Regions from separate parts of the Homo sapiens genome. Here region 1 is linked to region 2. The links come from fine-mapping of genetic effects on gene expression. A gene starts in region 2. The other region holds a variant in brackets. All regions are shown on one strand. Distances are between the middles of the regions. Region 1 overlaps ZPBP (zona pellucida binding protein). Region 2 holds the start of ZPBP (zona pellucida binding protein).

What was found.
Region 1: its variant is fine-mapped to the expression of ZPBP in testis (GTEx, PIP above 0.99).

The regions. Positions count from the first base shown.
Region 1 is chr7:49,941,577-49,949,922 of GRCh38, forward strand. All of the region lies in intron 7 of ZPBP (zona pellucida binding protein), which reads right to left. It also overlaps the pseudogene GNL2P1. Among named protein-coding and RNA genes, the nearest start is that of ZPBP, 150 kb to the right of the region's middle. The variant G/A (reference allele first, on the strand shown) is at 3,723.
Region 2 is chr7:50,088,387-50,096,732 of GRCh38, forward strand. It overlaps ZPBP (zona pellucida binding protein), which reads right to left and starts at 4,860. Exons shown (of 8, transcript NM_007009.3): 1 at 4,682-4,860; 2 at 1,243-1,323. The coding sequence starts at 4,808. It overlaps SPMIP7 (sperm microtubule inner protein 7), which reads left to right and starts at 7,497. Exons shown (of 9, transcript NM_001161834.3): 1 at 7,497-8,252. The coding sequence starts at 7,700. LOC124901630 (a long non-coding RNA gene) reads left to right here and starts at 4,893. Exons shown (of 2, transcript XR_007060321.1): 1 at 4,893-5,344; 2 at 5,429-5,955. RefSeq lists silencers at 4,664-4,713, 4,794-4,953.

The DNA.
Region 1 (8,346 bases), 150 kb before region 2:
CAACCAAGGTGGTGGAATAATGTATACTATAAATTACCAAAAATTGTTGAAAAAAATTCAAGAAGACACAAATAAATAGAAAGACATATCATGTTCATGGGTTGGAACACAATATTAAAGTGTTAACACCACACAAAGCTATTGATTCAATGCAATCTCTATCAAAATCCCAATAACATTTTTTTTTGTGAAAAACAAAAATCTTTCTCAAGAGACTCCAAATAGCCAAAATATTGAAAAAGAAAAACAAAGTTGAAAGTCTCACATTTCCTGATTTTAAAACTTACTACAAAGCTGCAATAATCAAAACAGTGTGGTGCTGCCAAAAAGACAGACATACAGACTAATGGAACAGAATAGAAAGCCCAGTAATAAATCCTTGCATACAGGGACAAATGATTTTCACAAAGGATGCCAAGATCATTCAATGGGGAAAGAACAATTTTTTTCACCCAATGGTATTGGGAAAACTGGATATACACAGACAACTAAATGAAGTTGGATTCTTAGACCATATACAAAAATTAACTCAAAATGAATCAAGGACTTAAGAGCTAAAACTGTAGAACATTTAGAAGATGACACTGGGGAAAAGCTTCAGGATACTGCATTTTACAATGATTTCTCTTTTTTTGCATATTTTTGTATAATACACAACCTTTTAAACGTTACTGCTAATATCTGAATTTTTGTGTTTCTGCTTCAGTCCCTCTGAGTCATTGGTCTTCTTTTTGTTCCCGCTTGTATTTTTCACATTGTGTGTTTCATAGTAGTGCACACAAATTTTTTTGGATTGTTGCTGCTGTACTGCTCACTTCCATTCCTTAGATGTAAGCATCCTGCAAGTTTTACTTGAATATTCCTCTTCCCTCTGTGTTCTGCTTATTTCCTTTTTTGGTAAATGCTGTGTAGCATCTGCATCTTCTTCAGATATTTTTCTCTGCTCTTCATGTTTTTCAAATATCTTTTCACTTAGTACCTTGGATATTCTGACTCCTGAAAACTTTTTAGCTTTAGCTTTGTCTAAAAACTTCTGATATTTAGCAATATTCTCATCTAGAGCTTTAATAATGGCTTTGGTGTGATTTTTCCATATGTTCTTCCTCAGATTCCTAGTAAGACTCTTCATCATCTCTTGCTTCTGCTCCCCTTCTTCAATAGAAAAGCTCTCAAGCTCTTTCTCCAGATATGACATATCCACAGGAGCGAGGTCATCCCCAGAAGACTGAGGCACCACACTGAGTTTGCCAAAGTTTTGCTGAACCCATGCACAAGAATTGGTTGCATCTCTGAGTTAGCATCCAGTGACTATTCTCTTCTTTTTCTTTTTCAATCACAGATTCTGTCACTTCACCTACAGTTTTGGTATTCATTCTGTCACTTCCTCTTCTGGATTGTTCTGGGTTGCTTCTGTGGCAACTTCCACGGATTAGGAGGGTGAAAGCTGGGGGGCCACAGGTGACTCTCCATTAAGCAGCTTGACAAAGAAAGGAATCCAGCCCTCTCAGCCAGTCATTGAGGACTATCCACCCACAGTCAGTAAGTCAGTAAGTTACTCCACCCTTTAGTAACTTCCCAGTCCAGAAAGTTAGCTTCTCAATAAAGTCCTCAGCATTCTCCCAAGAATTAATCTTTTATGTCTTGCTGATATATTCTGGCTTTACTTGTTCAAGTACAACATCAATGCAGTCTTCAGGGGTCTTAATTTTTCCTACTTAACTCCTTTTAGCACAATGTCTGTCTTCAAGTCCTCAGAAGAGTATACCAAACCTGAACAGTCAATGAAGCATAACCAACATATCAAGGTAATGTATTTCCAGATATTTCATCTACAATGGGGACCACATTGCAAACTTTCTTGGAACACTATGTTTATATCACAGACCTCTTGCCAACATTTAGATAGCCAATGAACCCAACACTCATCTGTTTCTTGTCAGTGTACAACTTTCCAAACTGCCACAGAAGCTGAATAAATGCTCCTTTGCGAAAGGGGTCAGTAAGACTTGCATGGAAAGCAAGTGTTGGCTAATCCAAGGAGAGGACAGCAACCCATCATTTTGTTGCCCAGGTTGCAACAAGGTCACATTTGTTATGTACAAACATAACGTGTTCCCAGGGTTTATTCTTTTTCAAGTATGGCTCAAGGCTCAATGTGACGGGAACGGGTACCCATTGGATCTCTAGCCAGCAACCAGAACTACAACATCTGGTGAATCTATAACCCTGGAGAGCTCATCCTATATTCCTTTGGACTGTCCCTTTTTACATGTCTCTTCTTGTGCTTCATTTATCCCACCAGTGTCTTCAGTTACTGACTCATGATCTTTTCTAGAAACTGGTCTAGCTCTCAGTGGACATTTCAGCATTTTCTAGAAAAGACTGCATATCACTTGCAAATAAATTTGGTTGCTTCCTTTGTGACATAGGGCCAAATGTAGTTTTAAAACTTTCAGTATCAGGAACGTGCACCTTTGAGTTGAGGCTGGATTCAATCTTAGAGAAGAGACATTGGTAACTTGCTTTGTTTCATGACAACTGTGTATGAATCCTTCATAACTGTATCCACTTCCTCTTGAAGTTTTTGTAATCATGACTGCTTAATCACATGTGCATTTTCAAACTATTTGATATTTGGCTGCACTTTTGCCACTGTGCCAGAAGCCACCTTTGATTGATATTCCAGGGGCTTAATGATCTTACCACAGCTGTTCTTGTATTTCTTTTGCCTGTACATATTCAGGCCTGAGACTGTGGCCTGGTCCCTCATGTTTTGACCTCCTGCTTCCTGCTCTCAGTCTGGGTTTGTGCTGGCATCGAAGAGGTTGATGATGCACTGTCCTTTTGTACTTGGGCTTTACCATCTTGGCGATGAGATGGGAACTGAAGTGCTAAGTCCAGCTTATGTTGGGTAAATGAATTCAGAACTTCCCAGGCCTGGCTGAAGTGACCTGTTTTATTACAGCTTCAATCTCAGTAGTTGTTATTGGTCTCCTCAGTTGTTAGATTTTTTCATAGTTCAATCTTGGTAGGCTGTATCTGTCTGGGAATGTCTTCTAGGTTTTCCAATTTATTGGCATATAGTTGCTCCTAGAAGCCTCTAATGATCCTTTGAATTTCCATGGCAGCAGACGCAATGTCTACTGTTTTATCTGATTTTATTTTCATTTATTTTATCTTCTTTTTTTCTTAGTCTGGCTAAAGGTTTGTTGATTTTGTTTATCTTTTTTAAAAATAACTTTTCATTTCATTGATTTTTGTATTTTTTTTATTTCATTTATTTCTGCTCTGATCTTTATTCCTTCTACTAATTTGGGGTTTGGTTTGCCCTTGTTTTTCTAGTTCTTTAAGATGTATCAATAGGTTGCTAATTTGAAGTTTTTCTGCTTTTGTTGATGTAGGTGCCTATTGCAATAAACTTCCCTGTACTGCTTTTGCTGTATCCCACAGGTTTAGGTACATCAGGTTTCCATTTTCATTTGTTTCAAGACATTTTAAAATTTCCTTCTTAATTTCTTCATTGAGCCACTGGTCATTCAGGAGCATATTGTTTAATTTCCAGGTGTTCATATAGTTTCAAAATTCCTCTTGTTATTCATTTCTAGTTTTATTCCATTGTGGTCAGAGAAGATACTTGATATAATTTCAATTTTTTGACTTTTTAAAGATTTGATTTGTGGCCTAACATATGGCCTATCTTTGAGGATTATCCATGAGCTGAG[G/A]AGAAGAATGTGTATTCTGCAACTGTGGGATGAAATGTTCTGTGAATATGGCTATTAGGTTCATTTGTTGTATAGTAGAGATTAAGCCTGATATTTCTTTGTTGATTTTCTGTCTGGATAATTTGTCCAATGCTGCACTGAAAGTAGGGTGTTAAAGTCTCCAGCTATTATTGTATAGGGGTCTCTCTCTTTAGCTCTAATAATATGTGCTTTATATATCTGGATGCTCCTGTGTTAGATTCATATATATTAAGAATTATTATATCCTCTTGCTGAATTGATTTCTTTATTCAATGACCTTGTCTGTTTTTATGCTTTTTGTCTTGAAATCTATTTTTTTTTTCCTGATATAAGTATAGCTACTCCTGCTCTTTTCTGGTTTTGCATGGAACTTTTTTTAACTCTTTATTTTCAGCCTATGTGTGTGTCCGTCTGGGTGTAGTGTGTTTCATGTAGGCAACAGATTGTTGGGTCTTGTGTTTTTATCCATTCAGCTCTCTTTGTCTCTTTACTGGAGAGTTTAGTGCATTTATATTCCATGTTATTACTCATAAGGAATTACTTTTGCCATTTTGTCACTTGTTTTCTGGTTGTTTTGTGGTCTTTTCCTTCTTTCTTTTCTTCCTGTATTCCTTTTAGTGAAGGTGATTTTCTCTGGTGGTATATGTACATATCCGTTGTGTTTTTTGATTTGTGGTTACCATAGCCTTGCAAATAATATCACGTAACCTGTTATTTTAAACTGACAACAACTTAATGCTGATTGCATAAACAAACAAGCAAAGAGAAAACTAGTAAAAAACTCTACAGTTTAACTTCATCCCCCCCTTTTTAGCTTTTTGTTGTTTCTATTTATATCTTAGTATACAGTGTTGTGAAAAGTTGTTGTAGTTATTATTTTTATAGGTTCATCTTTCAGTCTTTCTACTCGAGATATGAGTGTTTATACACCACTATTGCAGTATTATAATATTCTGTGTTTTTTTGTGTATTTACTTCAGATGATTTCTTATTGTTCATTAACATCCCTTTCCTTCAGATTGAAGAACTCTCCTTAGCATTTCTTATAGGCAAGGTCTGGTGGTGATGAAATCCCTCAGCTTTTGTTTTTCTGGGGAAGTCTTTATTTCTTCTCCATGTTTGAAGAATATTTTTGCCAGATATACTATTCTAGGATACAAATTTTTTCTTTTTTTTCCTTCAGCAATTTAAATATGTCATACCACTCTCTCCTGGCCTATAAGGTTTCCACTGAGAAGTCTGCTCACAAATGTACTGGAGCTCCATTGTATGTTGTTTCTTTTCTTTTGCTGCTTTTAGGATCCATTCTTTATCCTTGACCTTTGGGAGGTTGACTATTAAATGTCTTGAGGTAGTCTCACCTGGGTTAAAGTTGCTTGGTGTTCTATACCTTTCTTGTCCTTGAATACTGATACCTTTTTCTAGGTTTGGAAACTTCTCTGTTACCATCCCTTTGAATAACCTTTGTACCCCAACCTCTCACTCTCCCTTCTCCTTAAGGCCAATAACTCTTAGATTTGCCCTTTAGAGGCTATTTTCTAGATCTTCTAGACATGCTTCATCTTTTTGTCTTTTGTCTTTTCTGACTGTGTATTTCCAAATAGCCTACCTTGAAGCTCACTAATTCTTTATTTTGCCTGATAAATTCTGCTGTTAAGAGTCTCTGATGCATTCTTCAATATATCAATTGCATTTTTCAGCTCCAGAACTTCTGCTTGATGCTTTTTAATTATTTCAATTTCTTTGTTAAATTTATCTGACAGGATTCTGAATTCCTTCTCTGTGTTATCTTGAATTCTGTTAAGCTTCCTCAAAATAGCTATTATGAATTCTCCATCTGAAAGGTTACACATCTGTTTCCCAAGATTGATCACCGGTGCCCTATTTAGTTCATTTGATGAGGTCATGTTTTCCTGGATGATCTTGATGCTTGTGGATGTTTGTTGATGTCTTGGCATTGAAGAGTCAGGTATTTATTGTGGTCTTCGCAGTCTGGGCTTTTATGTACCCATCCTCCCTGGGAAGGCCTTCTAGGTATTCAAAGAGACTTCAGTGTTGTGATTGAAGTCTTTGGTCACTGCAGCTATATCTGCATTAGGGGGCTCTCCAAGCCTAGTAACACTGTGGCTCCTGCAGACTTGCAGATGCACTGCCTTGGAGGTTTTGGGTAAGATTCAGAAGAATTCCCTGGATTACCAGGCAGAGACTCTTGTTCTCTTCTCTTATTTTCCTGCAAACAAACAGAGTCTCTCTGTGTGTGCTGAGCTGACTGGAACAAGAGGAGGGGTGAATCAGGCACCCTGTGGCAACCACCACCTGTGACTGCACTGGGTCAGACCTGAAGCCAGCATAGCATTGGGTTTCACCCAAGGCTCATAGTCACCACTGCCTAACTACCGCTTATGTTCACTGAAGACCCAAGGGCTCTACAATAAGCAGGTAGTGAGTCCAGCCAGGCTCATATCCTTCACTTCCTGTTGGTAAGTTTCTTCCAGCCCTAACTGTGTTCAGAGATGCCATCTGGGAACCAAGGACTGGAATCTACCTGGTCCTCTATTCTACAGCAGCAGAACTGGCACCAAAGCTTCAAGACAAAGTCTTTCCCACTCTTCACTCCCCTATTCTCAAGCATAGTAGTCTCTCTCTATGACCATCATTGCCCCAGGCCTGCAGCAAGTATTGCCTGGCTACCACCAATGTTCACTCGAGGCCCAAAGGCCCTTCAGTCAGCTTGTGGTGAATGCTGCCAGTTCTGAGTCTCTCCTTTCAAGGCAGTGGGCTACCCCCTAGCTCAGAGAAGGTCCAGAAATCCTATCCAGGAGCGATGGCCTGGAACTGAAGACTCCAGGAGCCCACTTGTTGCTCTACTCCACAAAGCTGGTATCCAAGCTAATGCTTGATTCTTATGAAGGTGCTTTTTTGTGTGGACAGTTGTTCAATTTGGTGTTCCAGCAGGAGGGATAATCACTGGAGGGTTCTATTTGGCCATCTTACTCTGCCTTCTCCCTGTTTTGATTTCTTTTACGTGATACCAAAAGCACAAGAAATAAAGATTGGGTTCTATAAAAATAAAACCTTTTGTGTATCAAAGGACATTATCAAATATAGTGAAAAGGCAACCCACAATATAGGAGAAAATATTTGCAAATCACATGTCTGATAAGTGGTTAACATTTTTTTTTTGAATTTTAAACTCCTATAATTCAACAAACAACCCAATTAAAAAATGGGAAGAAGACTTGCATAGGTGTTTCTCCAAAGAAGATACACAAATGGTCAATAAGTATATAAACAGATGCTCAACACTACTAACCATTAGGGAAATGCAACTCAAAACCATAATGAGATACCACTTCAAACACAATGAGACGACAAGTATCAAGAAAATGGAAAATAACTAGTGTTGGTGAGGACATGGAGAAATTGTGAGCCTTGTGCATTGCTGATGGGAATGTAAAATGGTATAGTGGCTATGGAAAATCAGTATGGTGGCTCTTCAAGAAATTAAAATAGAATTGCCATATGAATCAGCAATCCCATTTCTGGGTATATGCTCAAAAGAATTGAAAGAAGTGTCTCAAAGAGACATTTGTATGCATTATGGACTTAACGTTTGTGTCCCTCCAAATTGATATATTAAAGCCCTAATCTCCAATGAGGCAATGTTGGAGATAAGGCCCCTAAGGAGATAAATTTAAATGAGGTAATAAAGGCAGGGCCCTTATCTGATAAGATTAATCTCCTTATAAGAAAACAGACCAGAAACACTGCTACCTCTTTCTCCATGAATATGCACCAAGGAAAAGCCATGTAAGGACAATACCAGAAGGTGGCTGTCTGAAATCAAGAAGAGAGCCCTCTCCAGAAACTGATCTTGGACTTCTAGCATCCAGAATTGTAAGAAAATAAATTTCTGTTGTTTAAGCCACCCATTCTATGAAATTTTATTATGGCAGCCTAATATAGTATATATCTAAAATAACTGAAAGCAGGATCTTGCAGGTATTTGCTTACCTGTGTTTAATGCAGCATTATTCACAATAGCCAACAGCTGGATGTAGCCCAATGCCCATCAGTGAATAAATGAAAAACAAAATGTGTGTATAGGTACAATAGAATGTTATTCAGCCTTAAAAAGGAAATTCTGACACATGCTATAACATGGATGAATCTTAAAAATATTGTGCTAAGTGAAATAAGCCAGTCATAAAAAGACAAATACTATATGATTCCACTTATATGAGGTATCTAGAGTAGTCACATTTATAGAGAAAAAATGTAGAATGGTGGTTTTCAGGTGTTGGAGGGAGAAGGGAATGGGGAGTTATTATTTAATGGGTATACAATTTCAGTCTAGAAGTTGAAAAAAATTCTAGAGATGGATGGTGATGATGATTTCACAACAGTGGGACTGAAGTTAATGCCACTGTGTATTTAAATTATACATTTAAATACACTTAAAATGTTAAATTTTATGTTATGTACATTTTACCATAATAAAAAGTGATATATACACATTCATATATTTAAATTAGCTAATATCTACAATTTGATTATGCCAAGAATTCACATAGATATGGAATAACAGAGTTTCTTCCACCCT
Region 2 (8,346 bases):
ATACCTGAAGCACCAGCACCAAATAAAAAATAGAAATTAGACTTCTTTATCAAAGTTTAAAACATATGCTTCAAAGAACACATTAAGAAAGTGAAAACACAATCCACTGAATGGGAAAAATATTTGCAAATCATGTATCCAATATATAGAATATATAAAGAACTCTATAATTCAACAACAAAAAGAAAACCACCAAATTTAAAAACGGGCAAAGGACTTGAATAGGCATTTCTACAAATGACATATCCATACAGCCACAAAGCACATGAAGAGTTACAACATCATTAGTCATTAGGGAAATGCAAATCAAAACCACAATGATACCAGTTTACACATACTAGGATAGCTATAAAAAAAGAAGATGGATAATAACAATGTTTAGGATATTGGAAAATCTGAACCCTCATACATTGCTGGTGTGAAAGTAAAATAGCTTAGGCTCTTTAAAAAATAGTTTGGCAGCTCCTCAAAATATTAAACATAGAGTTACTCATAGGTAGAGAAGTGAGTATTATCCCACCCTAAAAAGGAATGAAGTATTGATGCACTCTATAACATGGCTGAACCTCAAAAACGTCATACTAAGTGAAAGACAGACACAAAAGGGCACATAGTGTATGACTCCATTTATATGAAATTTCCAGAACAGGCAAACCTATAGAGACAGAAAGTAGATAAGTAGTTTTCAGGGCTGAAGAATGATTGCATAATGGATTAGGTCTTTCTTTTTGGGGTGATGAAAATGTTGTAAAATTACATAGGGGCAATGGTTGCCTAATCTTGTCAATATACTAAAAACAATTGAATTGTGCACTTTAAAGGAAGAATTTTATGGCATGTGAATTTGCCACAACTTAAAAACCACCAAAACAAGTTGTAGTTGCCATACTTCATGTGACTACTGCAAATCTTTGAATCCAAAATATGTATGATTTGTATTACCATATTTGCACTATATACATTTAATATTATAGCTAATTATTATATAATAAAAATCCACACAGGCAACTTTAGATAACTTTTAGAAATAATTATTCTTTGTATACTTATGTAGTTATAGCATATAGTATTAGAACTGGATGAGTCTAACCATATGCAAACAACTTTAATCCACTTCTGTAGAAAGAAAAGGGCCTTAGGAGACTAGGATAAATGAAGAGCATTAGCCTTTTGGAGAAGACTGATAAATTTAAACAAATGCTAATAACTTTTAAAAATTAGTGAAAATATATTTATGAATACCTGGAAAACTTGTTGATCCCACTATTTTCACTGAATCTTTGGTCAAGCGAAAAGCTCTTGGTAATCGAACCAAGTGTCCAACTATCAAAAAAAAAGATCAACAATTTGTCTCATTAGATATTCTAAAATATTCAAATATACTATTACAGTATCTTTGGTATTGGTTGAAGGGGAGAGCCATAATTCAATCTCCTCTGACAGTTGATATCACTGTTCCAACTCTATTCCCCCTCAGATGATCTGATAAATTTAATCTACGTACTGCTTCTCCATATTATATCTCACCTCTGATTTTTTCTAAAGCCATTTAGAATAATCTCTTCATTATTAGAAGTTCAAATCTCCCACCATTCAAGACCCAAATCACAAGTCCCTTCTCCTTCAAACCTCGTTTGTCCTTAGCACTTCTTATCTGCCACAGTACATCACCAGCACCTTTTTAATAACACTCATTCTACATTGTACTATAGTTCTTTGTTTTTAATTTCCTTAAGTTTTGGAGGAACAGGTGGTATTCGGTTACATAAATTCTTTAGTAAGGATTTTTGAGATTTTGGTATACCCATCACATAATAAACACTAAACCCAATTTGTAGTCTTTTATCCCTCACCCCCATCCCACCGTTTCTCCCACCCCCGAGTCCCCAAAGACCATTGTATCATTCTCATGCCTTTGCATCCTCATAGCTTAGCTCCCACTTATAAATGAGAACATATAATGTTTGGTTTTGCATTCCTGAGTTACTTCACTTAGAATAATAGTCTCCAATCCCATCCAGGTTGCTGCAAGTGCCATTAATCCATTCCTTTTTATAGTTGAGTAGTATTCCATATATATATTTATGTTTGTGTGTGTGTGTGTGTATATGAGTGTATATATATGTGTATATATGTGTATATATATGTGTGTATATATGTGTGCATATATATGCATATATATGTGTATATATTTGTGTATATATATGCGTATATATGCGTATATATGTGTATATATGTGTATATATATACACACACACATGCACACACACACACACATATATATATACACATATACCATACACCACAGTTTCTTTATCCACTCATTGACTGATGGGCATTTGGGCTGGTTCCATGTTTTTGCAACTGTGAATTGTGCTGCTATCAACGTGTGTGTGCAAGTACCTTTTTCATATAATGACTTATTTTCCTCCGGGTAGACACCAGTAGTTGGACTGCTGGATCCAGTGGTAGTTCTACTTTCAGTTCTTTAGGGAATCTCCACAATTTTCCATAGTGGTTGTACTAGTTTACATTCCCACCAGCAGTGTAGAAGTGTTCCCTTTTCACTGCATCCACACCAACATCTATTTTTTTTTTTATTTTTTGATTATGGCCATTCTTGCGAGAGTAAGGTGATATCACATTGTGGTTTTGATTTGCATTTCTCTGATAACTAGTGATGTTGAGCATTTTTTCATATGTTTGTTGGCCATTTGTATATCTTCTTTTGAGAACTGCCTATTCATGTCCTTAGCCCACTTTTTGATGGGACTGTTGGGGTTTTTTTTCATGCTAATTTGTTTGAGTTCCTTGTAGATTCTAGATATAGATTCCAGATATTAGTCCTTTGCCAGATGTATATATTGTGAAGGTTTTCTCCCATTCTGTGGGTTGTCTGTTTACTCTGCTGACTGTTCCGTTTGCTGTGCAAAAGCTCTTTAGTTTAATTAAGTCCGACATATTTGTCCTTGTTTTTGTTGCATTTGCTTTTGGGTTCTTGGACATGAAATCTTTGCCTAAATGGTGCTGGGATAATTGGAAAGCCACATGCAGAAGAATGAAACTGGATCCTCATCTCTCACCTTACATAAAAATCAACTCAAGATGAATTAAGGACTTAAATCTAGGACCTGAAACTATAAAAATTCTAGAAGATAATATCAGAAAAACCCTTGTAGACATCGGCTTATACTATAGTTCTTGATACACACATACCATTTTCCTTATTAGATTATAAGCTCCATTGATAGTGGGATCAATGTTTATGTTAACTTATCAAGAATCAGTATCAAACACTATACCTTGCACATTGTAAATATTAAATAATAATTGTGAAACATATTCTGATAGTCTTCATTGTTAAATGAGCAAATGTGATGGGCATAATAGTGTGAGGGGCAGTATAAAAATGCAATAAAGCATTATACCCAAATAGCCTTTAGCAGACAGGAATAGCAAAGTGCAAAGAAAAGGATGTGGTATCAAAGCCAGAGGACTTGAGTTTAAATCCTAATTCTGCCACTTACTGGTTTTAGGAAAATCACTTTAAACTCTAGGAGCTTCAGTTTTCTTATATGTAAAATGGGACTAATAATAATTCCATCCTTACAGTTACTGTAGAAAATGAGAATACTGTATAAATTGTAAAATGCTATATAAGAGGCCTTCACTATTCATCACTTACAAGATACTAACTGCTTATTCTATTTCTTATATCTCATAGGTCTAATCTTATTATTTCATCAAAAGATCACCAGGTAAAAATTTAAAATAAAAACCCTTTCACACCTAATACACGACCACGACCCATATCCAAGAAGCATCTTTCTCCTACATGGCAATTGATGGCTATCGGCTATTCATATACTTATAGAAGAATAATCTTTGGATTCCTGATGCCTGGACTTTGATTTTTAAATCTCTATTCACTCCATTTGTTTCCTTTCTCCTCCCCTATCCCCTACCTACCTCCACAAACCTTTTACATTTATATTCTTGGAGGACTTCTTTTTTTCATTATTCCTTATTTGAACAACTTTTTTCATTTGAAGCAAATCTCTGTGATTTTATCAATTTTGGGTCTAGAATTTTGAGTCTAGAATGCAGCCAAAACCTTTCTAGTTAAATAACAGTTCAATTAAACTTTCACATCCTTCGTCAGTGTTTGTTCATCAGTATCTTACATGTATTTTTAAAACAGTATAGAAAAGTACTTCAATTCTTTAGAGGTCAAAACTTTAAAATCGCATTATTTCCTGTATTTCACAGCTAAAACCAATAGATGGCGCTCCACCATCACGGATAATTTGAAAGCAGCAGGTTGCCTATTTGAAAGACACTGATCTCATCATTACAGAGTTCACACACTGAAATGCAAACCTGGCAGATGACCCATGGACTGAATTGGGGAGTTTATCAACAAAGCAATTTAATTGTAAAACTTCAACTGTGGGTGACGTAGTGATCCATCTATACCTTAATTTCCTGTCATTCACTCCTCTATGCAAATGCAGAGTGACTTTGTACGACTTCCATAAAAAATAAGCCTTTCTTGTCACGTATTAGTGAGCAAGGTGTCTCTATATAAAACGGATGCACGTGACACAAGAAAAGGCAATTCGAAGAGTGGGGGAAGCTGCGGTTGTCCCTGCGGAGCCGGCAGGGCGGCGCGGACCCTCACCTGATGAGGGCACCCGCACCAGGAAGGCGGAGATAAAGAGGAGGATGGCGGCCCGAGAGAGCAGGGAGCCGGCGGCCCGGGTCCGCCGCCTGCCCCGCCGCGCTGGGCCAAGGGCGAAGGCCTCCATCCACACGCCGCCGTCGCCTGCCCACCGTCCGCGCGGAAGGTCGTTAGGCAACGCGCGCCCACCTGCAGCCGGAAGTTGGCGGGCGGAGGACCGGAACAACGGACCTGATGGACGTGCTCCCACTTCCGCCGGGGTGGTAGACTAGGGGTCAGCCTGTGTCTCCACATAGCTGGTGGGGCCTACACGCGCCAACTGTGCTGTGCAGCCCCCGGGCCTTCAGGACAACACAGCCACGCAGGGCATCCTCAAGAACATCAGTGATTTGTCCAAGATCCTAGAGCTGAGAGAGAATCGTTGGGCCCCAAATCCCGTGCTTTTACCTTTGCATAGCGTTTATGATCGAAAAGCCCTTTTTATGAGCCAGGTGGTAGATGTGGGGCCCAGTTTCGAACAACAGATAGTGAGAATGCATGAGTTAAGACGTGTAAAGCCCTCAGTGGACTGCTTTGATCTAGTAATGTCAGCAGATAGTATTTTATGGATGTGTGGAACTTAATTGGGAGATAAATGCAATACACACTTAGTGGGAATTAAAGGTAAGTAAGGCCTTTAGCCTCAGAAAGAAGCTTGATGGAAGGACAGAGGAAATAACCATAGATGAAATTTACTTTCTAAAATAGACCGGAAGATCATCTTATAGTGTCACCTAAATTCAGCAAAACATACAAAACCATCTATCCTGTGTGGGAGACCAGAATATACCTTCTCAAATATGAAGGATTGCTGCCCTGAAGACAAGAACCAGCAGATGCAGGAGAGCTGTCCACCTGCCCTCTTTTTACCCAGAAGCAAGACATAGATTAGAAAGAGAAAAGGTATCCTGCCCCACTCCTTTACCAGGGAGAACAAAGGTTAACCACTGAAGACAGCGTCAGACCCTCATTAGCCTTGAAATGATATCAGAGGAATTAATATTAGCTTTTTTTAAACCATCTTTTGTCTGCTATTTGTTTGCTTAGCCCAAGTTACTGCCTGTAGAGACTCAGAGTCCTTTTCCTTTGTCACATCTCTAAAAATTTCCTAGTCTTTGTTGAAGATGCTATACAAGCTGGAATTCAAAGACGCTTCTTTGAGAACTACTCATTCTCTGGGTGTTCCTCATATATAAATGAAATATATTAATAAACATCTGTTTTTCTCTTGTTAATCTGTCTCTTGTAAAGGATCCATTCTAAGTACAAAGTTATGGGGGTTATTATTTTCCCATACACAGCCTAAGAGGCCATTTATAGCTAGAACTTGTTTTAGAGAAATTGAAAGAGACTCATGCCTCTACTTTTCTGCTGCTGGAAGGATTTACTTAATGGGAGCAGAGCTGTGATAGAAATAAATCTTAAGCAGTTGGTTTAAATACATTGAAGAATGAAGTTTGAGCAACTAAATGTAGAATGCCTAATTACAAGTGAGTTATCACTTTTGATATGAAGAAATGAGTGATCATGGGTGGACTAAAAACTGTCACTTGATATGCTATGATCTGGATGAAGGATTTAAAACTGACAGCCTAACCACCTAATTTAATCTCACTTGTTTAATAGTATATCTCAAAATTGTAAAGACTTTCAATGGGGCATAGGCATTCTGATTGTACCAAACATATCACCCTTGACAGTTGGCCTGATTAACGATTATGTGCCTGACTCTTCAAAGCTAGAATCTTGCCTGTTTTAACATTTTTGCTGCAGTAAGGATGATGTGAACTTTTACCCCAAATTCTAATATTTGCATTTCCTCTTATAGTAGTTCATGCAAGATGAAATTATCCAGGTGAAAGAGCTTTTAAGTGAACCAATACATTAGTGATTTAAATGATATTTTGTGTGTAGACAGTTAACTGATACCCATTGTGGTTTCCTAAAATGAACTTAAAACTCTTACTGTTCTTACTCTGGACACCATGGCAAATTTAAGGGAAGTAAAGATAATTTAGGGCATGTAAAGATGTACCTGTACTTTCATTATAATTTTCTGTTTTTCTTAAAAATTAGATATACTAGGGCTGGGCACAGTGGCTCACACCTGTAATCCCAGCACTTTGGGAGGCCGAGGCGGGCAGATCACAAGGTCAGGAGATCGAGACCATCCTGGCTAACACAGTGAAACCCCATCTCTACTAAAAATACAAAAAATTAGCCGGGCATGGTGGCGGGCGCCTGCAGTCCCAGCTGCTTGGGAGGCTGAGGCAGGAGAATGGCGTGAACCTGGGAGGCGGAGCTTGCAGTGAGCCAAGATCACACCACTGCACTCCAGCCTAGGCGACAGAGTGAGACTCCACCAAAAAAAAAAAATTAGATGTACCAATTTAACTTTAGTAATGTTTATATTTTGTAGTGCATTTAGATTTACATTTAATTAGATAGCAAGTGTTATATATATAAATACTTAATTGTAGTCACATATATACTTTTGAGAAATGTATTGTCACTGAATTAACTGCTTTATTTACACTCCTTAAATATATTTTATACCCATAAAATACCAACTTATGGAAAAATTTTAAAATAAGTAAATGAACACAGCTTTCCTGAGCACTGGGGAGAAAAGTATCATGGAAATATTAGTACCAAGGCTATTTTTGTTTTTCTTAAGAATTGTGATGTACATAATAAATGGTTCAATGTGTTAAGAATTCTAGCCGTTGCCAGGCAACAAGGGCTCTGCTTTATTCTCCTTATGTCATGTTCCTTCATTGCCCTATTCTTCCTTTGGTGGAGGAAAATATTTGCCTTAAAAAGAAAAACAAAATTATCTGCCAACATTTAGAAAGCTGTGTCAATTTTATACTAGTTTAACACAGATCTTTAGTTATTGGCAATAGAGTTTATATAGTTAAATATAAAGGAATTATCAGAAATACTTTATAGTTATCAAAAATTCTAAAGAAAAAGGCCATGGATGTAGAAATTCAGGACACACCTGGAAAGATAAGTATCTCTAAAAGGTCCATCCTTTCAGGAACTGTTGAGAATATAGATTACCCACACTATTGTGATCTCTTAAGAAAAATGAACATGCCTTTTGTGAAAGGTCTTGAGAACAGACATAACTATGGCAGGTTTGAAAAGAAATGCAACCCTGCTTTTCTTAAATTTCACCCTTATCCCCCTTCAGTTTTGCCAGACTATCATTTACATGATCCTTATCCCCCACCATATGGGCCACATTATCCATTATTTCCACTTCGGGATGATGTGACCTTAGGTGATTCCTGTTCAGGGTTTATGAGTCCTGGTGGTGATGCTGATTTAAATCCTGGCATTGGCAGAACCATACCAACCCTAGTGGATTTTAGTGATGTGAAACCTCAACATCGAGTTCCCAGACCAGACACAGGATTTCAAACAACAATAAAAAGGCAAAAAATTCTATCAGAAGAACTGCAACAGAACAGGAGATGGAATTCCAGGGAAGTACCAGACATTTCTATCAGAGCAAGACTTGGAGGTAAATGAAGTGACATGAACTTTCTATTTTTTAAATGCTCAAGGGAAGAGAGTATGGACATAAGATTCAATATTTAGGCAGTTAAATTAACAAA